2 linked regions of the Homo sapiens genome follow. The protein of the gene in region 2 purifies or fractionates together with the protein of the main gene of each other region. This does not show direct contact. Each region holds a gene or a part of one and is shown on either strand. Other genes may lie near its edges.

Region 1 (7,035 bases), on a different chromosome or scaffold from region 2:
ATCAGGAATTAAAGATGGAATATTAGCAACTCTACAGAAATAAAAAGGATTATAAAAGAAAACTATGGGCCGGGTGCAGTGGCTCATGCCTGTAATCCCAACACTTTGAGAGGCCGAGGCGGGTGGATCACTAGAGGTCGGGAGTTCGAGACCAGCCTGACCAACATGGAGAAACCCCGTCTCTACTAAAAATACAAAATTAGCCGCGCGTGGTGGCACATGCCTGTAGCCCCAGCTACTCAGGAGGCTGAGGCAGGAGAATTGCTTGAACCCGGAAGGCGGAGGTTGTGGTGAGCCGAGATTGTGCCATTGCACTCCAGCCTGGGCAACAAGAGTAAAACTTCGTCTCAAAAAATAAAATAAAATAAAAGAAGACTATGAACAACTGTATGCCAACAAATTAGACAACTTAGATGAACAAGATAAATCCCTACAGAAATGCAAACTAGCAAAACTGACTCAAAAAGAAACCAAAAATCTGAATAAGTTTATAACAAGAGATTGAATTAGTAATTTTAAAACTGCCCACCAAAAAAAATGCAGGCCCAGATGGGTTTTTTTTCCAGACTGAGTCTCGCTCTGTCGCCCAGGCTGGAGTATAGTGGCACAATCTCAGCTCACTGCAACCTCCACCTCCCAGGTTCAAGTGATTCTTGTGCCTCAGCCTCCTGAGTAGCTGGGATTACAGGTGCCCACCACCACACCTGGCTAATTTATGTACTTTTAGTAAAATTGGGGTTTTGCCATGTTGGCCAGGCTGGTCTTGAACTCCTAACCTCATGTGATCTGCCCACCTCAGCCTCCCAAAGTGCTGGGATTACAGGCACGAGCCACCATGCCTGGACTTCACTGGTGAATGCTATTAAACATTTAAAGAATTAATACCAATGTTTCACAAACTTTTCCAATAAATAGATGAAGAAGGAAAACTTTCCAATTCATTTTATGAACCCACTATTATCCTGATGACAAATGCGTCACAAGAAAAGAAAACCACACACTAATATCTCTTATGATATAGATGCAAAAATCCTCCACGATATACTGGCAAACTAAATTCAGCAACATATAAAAAGGGTATTATACACTATGACCAACTGAGACTTATCCTACAAATATAAGAATGGTATAACTTCAGATAGTCAATTAACGTATTACACCATATCATAGGATAAAACAAAATACATGATCATCTCAACAGCTGCAGCAAAAACATCTGACAAAACTCCAACATCCCTTCATGATTAAAAGAAAAAAACCAAAACTCTCAACATACTAGGAATAAAAGGAAACTTCCTCAAAAAGCATCTCTAAAAAACCCACAACTAACATCATAGTTAATGGTGAAAGACTGGATGTTTCCCCTCTAAGATGAGGAACAAGATGAGGATGTCCTCTTTCACCATATCTAGTCAACATTGTACTAGAGATTCTAGTCATGGCAACTGGGCAAGAAAAATAAATAAAAAGCATCCAGAATGGAAAGGAAGATGACATGATCTTGTGTATAAAATCCTAAGGAATCCACCAAAAAACTATTAGAACTATTAAATGAGTTCAGCAAGGTTTCAGGACACAAGATCAATAACTAATCAATTATATTTCTACATACTTGTAATGAGCAACTCAAAAATGAAATTAAGACAACAATTCCATCTATAATAGCATCAAAAAATAAAACATTTAGGAATAAATATGACACAATAAATATAAAACTTACATACTCTTAAACCATAAAACATTGTTTAAAAAAAATTAAAGAAGAACTGGCCTGGTGTGGTGGCTCACACCTGTAATCCCAGCACTTGGGGAGGCTGAGGTGGGCGGATCACCTGAGGTCGGGAGTTCGAGACCAGCCTGACCAACATGGAGAAACCCCACCTCTACTAAAAATACAAAATTAGCCGGGCGTGGTGGCACATGTCTGTAATCCCAGCTACTTGGGAGGCTGAGGCAGGAGAATCGCTTGAACCTGGGAGACGGAGGTTGCAGTGAGCCAAGATTGTGCCATTGAACTCCAGCCTGGGCAACAATAGTAAAAACTCCATCTCAAAAAACAAACAAACAAAAAAAACCTCAAAAAATTAAAGAAGACCTAAATAAATTGAAAAACATCCTTATGCTCATGGTTTAAAAGACAATATTGTTAAAATGACAAAACTCTCCAAACTGAGGTATAGATTCAATTCAACTCCTATCAAAATCTCAGCTGGCTTTTTGCTGACATTGACAAGCTGATCTTAGAATTCATGTGGAAATGCAAGAAACCTAGAATAGCCACCTTGAAGAGAGAGGTCTGAGGACTCACATTTCACGCTTGCCAATTTTAAAACGTACTACACAAAGCTACAGCAATCAAGACAACGTGGTACTGGCATAAGGACAGACATACAGGTCAATGGAATACAATTTAGAGTCCAGAAATAAACCCACACATTTATGGTCAATTGATTTTCAACAAGGGTGCCAAAATAATTCATTGGGAAAGAACTGTCCTTTCAACAAGTGCCGCTTGAACAACTGCATATCTACATGCAAAAGAACAAAATTTTGGCTGAGCTCATTGGCTCATCCCTATAATCCCAGCACTTTGGGAGGCCAAGGCGGGAGGATCACCTGAGGTAGGGAGTTCGAGATCAGCCTGATCAACATGGAGAAACTCCATCTCTACTAAAAATACAAAATTAGCCAGGCATGGTGGCGCATGCCTGTAATCCCAGCTACTCGGGAGGCTGAGGCAGGAAAATTGCTTGAACCTGGGAGGCGGAGGTTGTGGTAAGCCGAGATCACACCATTGCACTCCAGCCTAGGCAACAAGAGCGAAACTCCATCTCAAAAAAAAAAAGACAACCCATGGAATGGGAGAAAATATTTGCAAATCACATACTGATAAGGGCCTACTATCCAGAATATGCAAAGAACCTTTACAACTCAACAAGTCAAATAACTCAATTTTTAAATGGGCAAAGGATTTGAGATGACATTTCTCCAAGGAAGATACACAAATTGCCAATAAGCACATGAAAAGATGCTCAACATCATTAATCATAAGAGAAATGCGAATCAAAACCACAATGAGATGCCACTTCACACCCACTAGGATGCGTACAAACAAAACAACAGATAATACCAAGTGTTGACAAGGATGTGAAGAAACTGGAATCTCATACACTGCTGGTGGAAATGTAAAATAGTGCAGCCACTTCGAAAAATTGCTGGCAGTTCCGCAAAAAGTTAAAACATAGAGTAACTACATGACCCAGCAATTCCTCTCCAAGGTATATACCCAAGATAAATGAAAACATATACCCATACAAAAACTTATACATGGGGCTGGGTGCAGTGGCTCATGCCTGTAATCCCAGAACTTTGGGAGGCCAAGGTGGGCTGATCACTTGAGGTCAGGAGTTCAAGACCAGCCTGGCCAACATGGTGAAACCCCATCTCTACTAAAAATACAAAAATTAGCCAGGCGTGGTGGTGCACACCTGTAATCCCAGCTACTAGGGAGGCTGAGACAGGAGAATCGCTTAAACCCAGGAGGCAGAGGTTGCAGAGAGCTGAGATCATGCCACTGCACTCCAGCCTGGGCAACAAAGCAAGCTGTCTCAAAAAAAAGGAAACCCACAAAAACATATACACAAATACACACAGCAGCGTTACTCATAATAGCCAAAAAGTGGCGACAACCCAAATGTCCATCAACTGACAAACGGAGAAACATTTTCGTCTAACAAACAAAACATAGTACATCCATGCAATGGAATATATTCAGTGATAAAAAGGAATTAAGCACCTGAAACATGCCACAACGTAGATGAACCTCCAAAACATTATGCTAAGTAAAAGAAGAAACAAAAGGCCACATATGATTCTATTTATATGAAATGTCCAGAATAGGCAAATCTAGAGACAGGAAGTAGGTTAGCAGGTTGCCTGGGCTGGAGGGGTTGGGGAGAAATGAGGAGTGACTACTACAGGTATGGGGTTTCTTTTTCGGGTGAGGAAAATATTACAGGGTGGGTGCAGTGGCTAACACCTGTAATCTTAGCACTTTGGCAGGCCAAGGCAGGAGGACTGCTTGAGCCCAGTCTGGGCAACATAGGGACACATTTTCTCTACAAAAAAATCTTTAAAAATTAGCCAAGCGTGGTAGTGCTTGCTTGCAGTCCTAGCTATTTGGGAGGCTGAGGTGGGAGGATTGCTTAAGCCGAGAAGGTCAAGGGTGCAGTGAGCTGTGATGGTGCCAGCCTAGGCAAGAGAGTGAGACCCTGTCTCAAAAACAACAAAAAAACAAAAAAGAAAGAAAAAGAAAAAAATTTCTGAAATTTGACAGTAGTGATAGTTGCATAACTCAGCAGATATACTAAAAACCATTGAATAACCTTTAAATGTAGATTATATAAGTGAACTATATCGCAATAAAAATCTTTTGAAAAAATCAATCTGTATATGTTTATACATAATACATAAAACGAATCTCTCATGTACTGTTTGACAAGTTGCTTAATTCCTCCTGAGCTTCAGTTTGCTCGCTTGTAAAACTGAACAATAAAAAAAACCTACCTTACAGTTCTTACAAGGGGAAAGTCCTTAACTTAGCACGGTGCTTGACACCACAGTAAGTGCTGAGAAGAGTTACCTGTTATTATCATACGCCCACACTATGTAGTTTCATATAGCTGTCACTTTCTCCCTAAAAGGGATTTGCTCAAATTGCATTACAGTTATTAGTGGGGCTTAGAATCTTCAACTAATAATATGAGTTCAGAGAACAAGGAGTTTCAGAATTTAGCTGGAATTCACTTTTTCTTTTGAGACAGAGTCTCCCTCTTGTTGCCCAGGCTGGAGTGCAATGGTGCAATCTTAGCTCACCGAGATCTTGGCTCACTGCAACCTCTGCCTCCCAGGTTCAAGCAATTCTCCTGCCTCAGCCTCCCGGGTAGCTGGGATTACAGGCATGCACCACCACGCCTGGCTAATTTTGTATTTTTAGTAGAGACGGGGTTTCTCTGTGTTGGTCAGGTTGGTCTCGAACTCCCGACCTCAGGTGATCCGCCCACCTCGGCCTCCCAAAGTGCTGGGATTACAGGCCTGAGCCACCACGCCCGGCTGGAATTCACTTTCGAAACTGATCATTTAGGTTTTCCTTTTAAGTTTCTTTAGCCATGAGCTATACCCAAATAAAAATACCCATCCTCCTTTAACTAGGAGTTTCCTTCCTATTTGCTCATTTCAGCTCATCCACTTTTCTTGCTCAAAAGCCTTAAAAAAAATTTATTTTTTTTTTGAGATGGAGTCTCATACTGTTGCCGGGCCTAGAGTGCAATGGTGCGATTTTGGCTCACTGCAACCTCCGCCTCCCAGGTTCAAGCGATTCTCCCACCTCAGCCTCCCAAGTAGCTGGGATTACAAGCACCCGCCACCATGCCCAGCTAATTTTTCATATTTTTAGCAAAGATGGGGTTTCACTATGTTGGCCAGGCTAGTCTTGAACTCCTGACCTCATGATCCACCTGCCTTGGCCTCCCAAAGAGCTGGGAGTACAGGCGTGAGCCACCGTGCCCAGCCAAAAAAAATTTTTTTTTAAGGAGACGGAGTCTTACTATATTGGCCAGGCTGGTCTTGAACTCCTGTCCTCAAGCACTGACCCCACCTCAGCCTCCTCAATCAAAAGCCCTCTTTACTATCTTGCCATCCTCCTGCCGAGCTCTGAGGCCAGGCTGCAGAACCAGACAACTGGACACCCCTTCCAGCTTGCCCACTAGCCTCAGGTGAATTATCAGTTCCCCTGTGCCTTGGTACCTGGCATGCAGGAAGTGCTTCATAAACTCACTGTCACCTTTAGGGGGACTCCAGCAAGAGGCTGCTGGCTAGTCCTCCTCTCTCTCAACACAGACAACCACCCTCACTCCTCTTCACTCTCAGACCATCCTGGTCCTGTGTGGCCCCCACGCTGAGTCAGTGGAAACAGGAATCTTGAGGCCAGTTTCCTAAGGTGAGCTTGAACCCCCGATGACCAAGGGGGCACATGAGGAGAGCAGGCTCTAGGCTCTTCATCTTGGATGCCTAGCCCATGGCTCAGCGATTTGAATCTGTGCCCGGGGCCTCACCTGGCCTGCCCCAGGCTGGAGTGAGAACCCCAGGAATGTCCTCCTCTTACCTAGGTGCTATACTTTTCACCTGCTGGCTTCCTAAACAGGGAGCCTGGCTCTAGAGTCAGGCCTCATTTGCCACCCTCCACCTCACACAACCCAGGTTTTCCAACCCTGTCTAAGGTACACTGACTCACCTTTGCATCTGTCCCCTTAAGTGTTCATGTCTCACCATCAGTAAGAAGGCCAAAGAAGTTTAACAGACTTCTTTAGCTAAGCGGCCAACGACATAAGCAGAACACAAACAGTTTCAACTTCAGCAACCAACTTCAAGGCCCCACTGAATATTAATGAGCTGATGGGTTAAGAGGCACTTTATTAAATGCCTCTGCTGATCAAATGAAGGCCTGAAACAATCTGGTAGTTGGCATAGTTACACAACTGCCTGCTATTAGTGAGACAGTGGGATTGGGGCTGGCTCACACACACAGAAACACGTGCTTATCCTCTTCATCTGGATAAACTTGATTCTTTCTTGTGTTGCTGTTCCTGGAACAGGAACAAAAAACCTGGAAAAAAATTCTTACAGCTATCAGTATACATGCTCCAAGTCTCAATCAGGTGATAGACGGAATGAGGAAACTGACAGCAGAAACTCACCAGCAAACAAAACATTAAGGGAAACAGCCACTTTATTGCTGGGGTGATAAGAATTTTTTGGGTTTTTTTTGTTTTTTGAGTCGGAGCCTCGCTCTGTCTCCCAGCCTGGAGTGCAGTGGCACGATCTTGGCTCACTGCAACCTCAGCCTCCTGGATTCAAGCGATTCTCCTGCCTCAACCTCCTGAGTAGCTGGGATTACAAGCACGTGCCACCACATCCAGCTATTTTTGTATTTTTAGTAGAGACGGGGTTTCACCGTGTTGGTCAGGCTGGTCTCCA
Region 2 (6,873 bases):
ATTGGTCGGGTTGGAGATGGAATCATAGGGGGTCGAAGTGAGTTTTTCTTGCTGTCTTCTGTTCCTGAGTGGGATGGCAGAACTGTCTGAGCTACATTACTGTTGGAGGTGGTGTCAGCAGATCCATCAAGTGCAAGGTCTGCAAAATATCTCAAGCACTGATCTTAGGTTTTACAATAGTGATGTTATTCTCAGGAGCAATCTGGGGAGGTTCAGACTCACAGCTGAAGGCTGCATGGTCCCTAAACCATAGTTTCTAATCTTGTAGCTAATTTATTAGTCCAGAAAGGCAGACTGGTCCCCAGGCAAGAAGGGATTTTTTTTTTTTTTTTTTTTTGGAAAAGGGCTATAATCAATTTTGTTTCAGAGTTAAACTATAAATTCCTTCCCAAGGTTAGTTCAGCCTACACCCAGGAATGAACAAGGACCACTTAAAGGTCAGAAGCAAGATGGAGTAGGTTAGGTCTAATCTCTCCCACTGTCATAATTTCCTCAGTTATAATTTTTGCAAAGGTGGTTTCAAGATCAAGATGAGAAAAATGGGTCTTGGAGAGGTGAAATAACTGGTTTAAAAGCAAAGAGCTGCATTCTCTATACCTCCTCTCTTGTAGAATAAATGAATGATGTCTCTCTTGTAGGGAATTAGACAGATAGATGGGCAGCCACCACATTGGTTGTAATTAAGTTTCATTCTTTCTTCACCAGCCCAGCATTGTACTTGGCTGCAGCAGACCCAGAGCAGGCAGGACTGCCTTGTGGGGTGTGGACTGTTCTCCTCTGAGGCTGCAGAGAGCAGACAGCAAAGATCTGTCTGCTGCCCTTGAGGGGTGGCCATAGAGGCTTGGGGACAGGCAATTTCTAAGGGGATACAAAATGGATCCTTCCCCATCCTCCCACTTGTGTGCAGATATTTCCCGAAGTAAAGCTGAGCTAAACCCTAAAGGATAGTCAGGATTTAGATGGGAGAGGAAGGTGAAAGAAACAGATGACCAGGCGCAGTGGTGTGTACCTGTAGGCCCAGTACTTTGGGAGGCGGAAGTGGCAGGATCAATTGAAGCCAGGAGTTCAACACCAGCTTGGGCAACAAAGTAACACCCTGTTTCTAAATAAACAAACAAAATAAATGGATGCAGGGAAACAGTAAAATAGTTACTAAATGTGTATGATGCATGTGGGCTGGGCACAGTGGCTCACGCCTGTAATCCCAGCACTTTGGGAGGCCGAGGCGAGCAGATCATTTGAAATCAGGAGTTCAAGACCAGCCTGGCCAAGATGGTGAAACCCAGTCTCTATTAAAATTACAAAAAAAAAAAAAAAAAAATTAACTGGGTGTGGTGGTGAGTGCCTGTAATCCCAGCTACTTGGGAGGCTAAAGCAGCAGAATCTCTTGGACCTGGAAGGCGGAGATTGCACTGAGCTGAGATCATGCCACTGTACTCCACCCTGGGTGACAGAGTGAGACTTTGTCTGGAAAAAAAAAAAACCCCAAACCCACAAAAAATAAATTAATAAATGTGTATCATGTGCTTTATACTATGTTAGTGACAGAAACACAACAGTGAGCAAAACAGACCTCAGCCCTACCCTCATGGAGCTTTCAGTCTAGCGGAGGATACAGGCATAAAGAACCACCTATACTAGTATTAATTACAATCTGCAATGGGTATTGTGAAGGAAAAGTACAGGGCAATAGGAGAGCTTATGTTGGGTATGAGGTGATGATGTAACCAAGAGAGTGAAGGGAAGCTACTCCTGAAGAAAGGCATCTGAACTTGCATTTAAAGGGTAAGGAGAGGTTAACCAGAGGATGATAGTGGGGCATGGGTTAAGTGCATACCAGGTAGAAGGAACACATGTGTAAAGGCCCTGAGACAGGAGGGCACAAGGAAGGTTTGAGCAACTGAAAAGAACTTGCATGGCTGGAACAGTGGGTGGGGGTTGGGGGCTAGAAGGGGTCAGAAGGGGAGAAACGTAGGGGCAGATCCTTTAGGACCTTGAAGACAAACTAAGAATTTGGGCCTTTATGATTTTTTTTTTTTTTTTTTGAGACAGAGTTTCACTCTTTTTGCCCAGGCTGGAGTGCAATGTTGCAATCTTAGCTCACTGCAACCTCCGCCTCCCAGGTTCAAACGATTCTCCTGCCTCAGCCTCCCAAGTAGCTGGGATTACAGGTGTGCACCACCACACCCAGCTAATTTTGTATTTTTAGTAGAGATGAGGTTTCACCATATTGGCCAGGCTGGTCTCGAACTCTTGACCTCAGGTGATCTGCCTGCCTTGGCTTCCCAAAGTGCTGCGACTACAGGCATGAGCCACCTTGCCTGGCCTGATTTTTTTTTTTTTTTTTTTAACTGAGACAGGGTCTCACTCTGTCACTCAGCTGGAGTGTAGTGGTGCAAAGATGGCTCACTGCAGCTTTGACCTCCTGAGCTCAAACAGTCCTCCTGCCTCAGCCTCCCAAGTAGCTGGGAGTACAGGCACAGGCCACCATGCCTAGCTAATTACGTGTGTGTGTGAGATATGTATATGTATATATATATATATATATATATATATATATATTTTTTTTTTTTTTTTTTTTTTTTTGTAGAGCCAGGGTCCTGGTATGTTGCCTAGGCTGGTCTCGAACTCCTGGCTTCAAGTGATCCTCCTACCTCTGCCTCCCAAAGTACTGGGATTACAGGCATAAGCCACGCACCCAGCCCTTTATGGAAATTAATTGAAAAATTTTAACAAAGTTCTGTGATAATTTTGCCCCCTTTAAACATATCTTTGATTACAACATGAAGAACAATAGACCAATTAACAGCACTGTATTAGTTCAGGGTAAAAATGACAGTGGCTGGGATTCGGTGACAGCAGAGATGAATAATACCAGACAGATCCAAATAAATAAGGTGGATTTGGCCAGACAGTGGTTCATGAGTATAATCCTAGCATTTTAGGAAGCCAAGGCGGGAGGATCACTTCAGCCCAGGTGTTTGAGACGAGCCTGGGCAATATAGTGAGATCCCCATCTCTACAAAAAATCCATAAATTAGCTGGGTATGGTGGTGACCAGCTGTAGTCCCAGCTACTCAGGAGGCTGAGGTGGGAGGATTGCTTGAGCCCAGGAGCTCGAGGCTGCAGTGAGCCATGATTGCACCACTGCACTCCAGCCTGGGCGACAGTGAGACCCTGTGGGGGGCGGGGGCGGGGGAAAGCGGAGCTGTGGAGAGTGAAGCAGCCACCTCCCCCATGATTGAGGCTGTGTTGCTGAATTCCGTGAGTCACTTCATAAATGTTTGATGTCCAGGTTCAAGTCCCAACTCAGGTCCCAAAGCTGATGGGCCCAGGAACCCTCGTCCCTAAAACGATGAAACGACATCAGAGGGCGAGCAGCCCTAGAAGAAGCAGGCTCAGCTCGGGTGGAGGACTGCTGGATGGTCCTGGCACTTCTCTTTCCCCGAGCACGTTCTGCAGAAGAAGCGCTTTCCTAGTTCTCCCAAGGCCTCTGGCCTCACCTGTCACCCCTGTCCTTTGCCCAGGGATCAGTTTGGACTTCTTCCCAAACTTGGTCTACAGAGAAGTGAAGGGGCTGTTTCCTGTCCCACTTTTGAGAGTTTGCTTTAGAAACATAAAATTGGAAGGTGTCAGATTGATAGGCAGTTGGGAAGGACTCCGGCCACGCCTCTGGCTCCGTAGACGCTCCGCGCAGCCAAGACCCCTGAATCCCCAGCAGAGCGAAGATGTGGACGGAAGCCGAATGCCCACCCACCGCACTATTGTGGGCTGGGCGGGGGGGGGGGGGGGGGGGGCGGAGCGACCCCGGTGCCGTCATAGGGCCACGCCCTCGGGGGAGGGCATCGCGCCTGCGCCAGAACCGCTGCCTCGCTCCCGGAAGTGGAGGGTCTACACGAAGCGCCGCTGGGTCTGGGTGCCCGGAGGCAGCAGCGTTCGCGGAGTTCGCCCGCTGGCCCCCGATCACCATGTCGGCTTTCGACACCAACCCCTTCGCGGACCCAGTGGATGTAAACCCCTTCCAGGTAGAGCCCCTCTCCCGCCATCCAGCTCTCAGATTTCCCTAGGGCCCACGGCCGCCGCCCGGGCCTCTCGCTAGAGCCGGGAGACGTGGCGTAGGAGGGACGGGTCATCTGCCCAATGGGAGAGCGGGCTTTGAGGTCTGGCCTATCGTAACGCGTGAGGGGCGCGACTAGCAGCAGGTGGAACTGCAGAGGAGGCGGGGCGCTGAAGTGTTGGAGACAGTGGGGTCTTCTAGCACCCGGAGGCTGGGCTGTGCTAGGGAAGGGGACTGGAGCAGGTACGGTCGGACCCTTCCGGAAGTCTCCTAGCGTCAGGGAGAAGCGAAATGTGGCTATCGCATTCCCTCATTCTTGGATAGACACCTGTCTTGAGTCACTTTAGAAGAGGGGGTGACAGCAACATATGAGGAGGTGGTGAAGCCTCTGGTGGAGGGGAAAAATGTGGGAAAAGCCCAGGACACCTGCCACCGCTCCACCACCAGCCAAACTAGTGTATAAAGTACAGGAGAGCCCCTGAGATTTGTCAGGGAAAGAAAGATGGGAGAGGGCGGGAAGGTAGCCCAAGTTGAAAAATGGCCTTGATAAGAATTCCACATTTTGGCCATGGGTCTAGTTTGGAGTGGGTTTTGACCAGATAGGAGAGCCCGGGTTAGGGAGAGAGGAGAGGTGCGGGGGACTGTGAAAAATTCTGGACCCACAGGGAACGTTTGTCTGATGGAACTGTGTGTGGTGGCAACATAGTTGAGATGCACTGACGTGTGAGCTGGCCTGACTTTTTTTTTTTTTTTTGAGACGGAGTCTCGCTTTGTCGCCCAGGCTGGAGTGCATTGGCACGATTTCCGCTCACTGCAACCTCTGCCTCCCGAGTTCAAGCAATTCTCCTGCTTCAGCCTCCTGAGTAGCTGGGACTACAGGCGTATGCCACCACACCCAGCTAATTTTCATACTTTTAGTAGAGACGGGGTTTCACCGTGTTGGCCAGGCTGGTCTCAAACTCCTGACCTCAGGTGATCCATCCGCCTCGGCCTTCCAAAGTGCTGGGATTACAGGTGTGAGCCACCACGCCTGGCCTGACCTTTTGAACAGCAATCAAGGAAGAAACAATCTTCCTGCTTTCTTTCTTTTCCTTTTTTTTTGTTTTGTTTTGTTTTGTTTTTTGAGACAATTCTTGCTCTGTCGCCCAGGCTGGAGTGCAGTAGCGCGATCTCGGCTCACTGCAGCCTCAGCCTCCTGGGTTCAAGTGATTCTCGTGCTTCAGCCTCCCGAGAAACTGGGATTACAGGTGTGCACCACCACACCCGGCTAATTTTTGTATTTTTAGTAGAGACGGGGTTTCACCTTATTGGCCAGACTGGTCTCAAACTCCTGGCCTGAAGTGATCCACCCACCTTAGCCTCCCAAAGTGCTGGGATTACAGGGGTGAGCCACCACACCTGGCCTCTTTTTTTTGAGACAGAGTTTTGCTCTTGTTGCCCAGGCTGGAGTGCAGTGGCGCGATCTCGGCTCACTGCAACCTCAGCCTCCTGGGTTCAAGCAATTCTCCTTCCTCAGCCTCCTGAGTAGCTAGGATTACAGGCATGCACCACCACGACCGGCTAATTTTGTATTTTTAGTAGAGACGGGGTTTCTCCACGTTGGTCAGGCTGGTCTCGAACTCCCGACCTCAGGTGATCCACCTGCCTCGGCCTCCCAAAGTGCTGGGATTACAGGCATGAACCACTGCGCCCAGCCCTCTTTCTTCCTTTTTTAAGGCAGGGTCTCACTCTGTCGCCCAGGCTGTAGCACAGTGGAGGTCATGGCAGCCTTGACCTCCAGGATTCAAATGATTATTTGAATCCCACCTCAGTCTCCTGAGTAGCTGGGACTACAAGAATGTGCCACTGGGCCTGACTCCTTTTAAAAAAAATTTTTGTAGAGAAGGGGTCTCGCTGTGATGCCCAAGCTGGTCTCGAAATCCTGGTCTCAAGCAATCCTCTGGCCCCAGCCTCTCAAAGTGCTATGATTACAGGCATGAGCCACAGGACAGTCTTCCTACTTAAAGCCCACACCTTTCTGCCTTTCAGCTGAGAGCACAGGGATGATCTTTTTCCACCATGAGGGGCTGAACTGTTACCTCCAGAGCTCCTATGCCTCTTGTTTCACGTCTGCTCAAAACCCGTTCTAGGGAAGCTTGTTTGTGCTGACTGGTGAATTATGAGCCCTGATATTCTGCTCTGTCAGGATGTCACCAGGCACATTAACTCACCCTGCTTGTCCTTTATTTTGGTCATTGGCAGCTTTTAAGTTTCCTGCAGGTGTCAGAGAAGTCCTTGAAGGAGTCCTTCCTGTCATTCACAGCATGAGTTTTCCCACTTTGAATCGCTTCAAGGGTCAGAGCAAAATCAAAGGAGACTTGAACTAAATAATTATACGCTGTCAGGAGAGTGAAAATGTTTTGCTTCTTTCTTGGTCTCAAGGTGTCTTAGCCAACAGGAGCCCTCAGGGCAAATTCTGATAGCTTGTTCCTTAGAACATCAGGGAATTCTGAACATTCCTCTCGTAGCTTAATGTTTCTTGACAGAGCGTTTGCAAGGACCTTGTCTCTTATGTAAGGCAAACAGTCATCTCTATTGAGTAAAGAAAGAAGATTTGCATTTTTTTTTTCTGCCAATGTCTTCTGGTAACAGACTTTAATTACAAAACTGCTGTATAATACTGGGGTTTGGGTTTTAGTAGGATCTTGTAGCCTTATGGTGTATGTTGTATGTGATGATTTTCCATTTTTTATGTGTGTTTTTTTGTCCTCTCAGAATCAGAAATAAAAAGTCTGCTGCTGTCTGACAGAGAGGAAGTCAGTTGTCTAAAAATGCAG

The links. The genes of interacting proteins can lie anywhere in the genome.
Region 1: the proteins of SCAMP2 (region 2) and ANKRD13A purify together in Homo sapiens (affinity purification with mass spectrometry; 2 studies listed by BioGRID and IntAct, with this or other methods). This does not show direct contact.

Annotation. Positions count from the first base shown.
Region 1 is NC_000012.12:110,002,413-110,009,447, reverse strand, and holds part of ANKRD13A (ankyrin repeat domain-containing protein 13A), read right to left. Parts: intron 1-7,035. UniProt on the Homo sapiens protein: Ubiquitin-binding protein that specifically recognizes and binds 'Lys-63'-linked ubiquitin. Does not bind 'Lys-48'-linked ubiquitin.
Region 2 is NC_000015.10:74,870,351-74,877,223, reverse strand, and holds the start of SCAMP2 (secretory carrier-associated membrane protein 2), read left to right. Parts: upstream 1-3,858; 5' UTR 3,859-3,968; coding exon 3,969-4,025; intron 4,026-6,873. UniProt on the Homo sapiens protein: Functions in post-Golgi recycling pathways. Acts as a recycling carrier to the cell surface.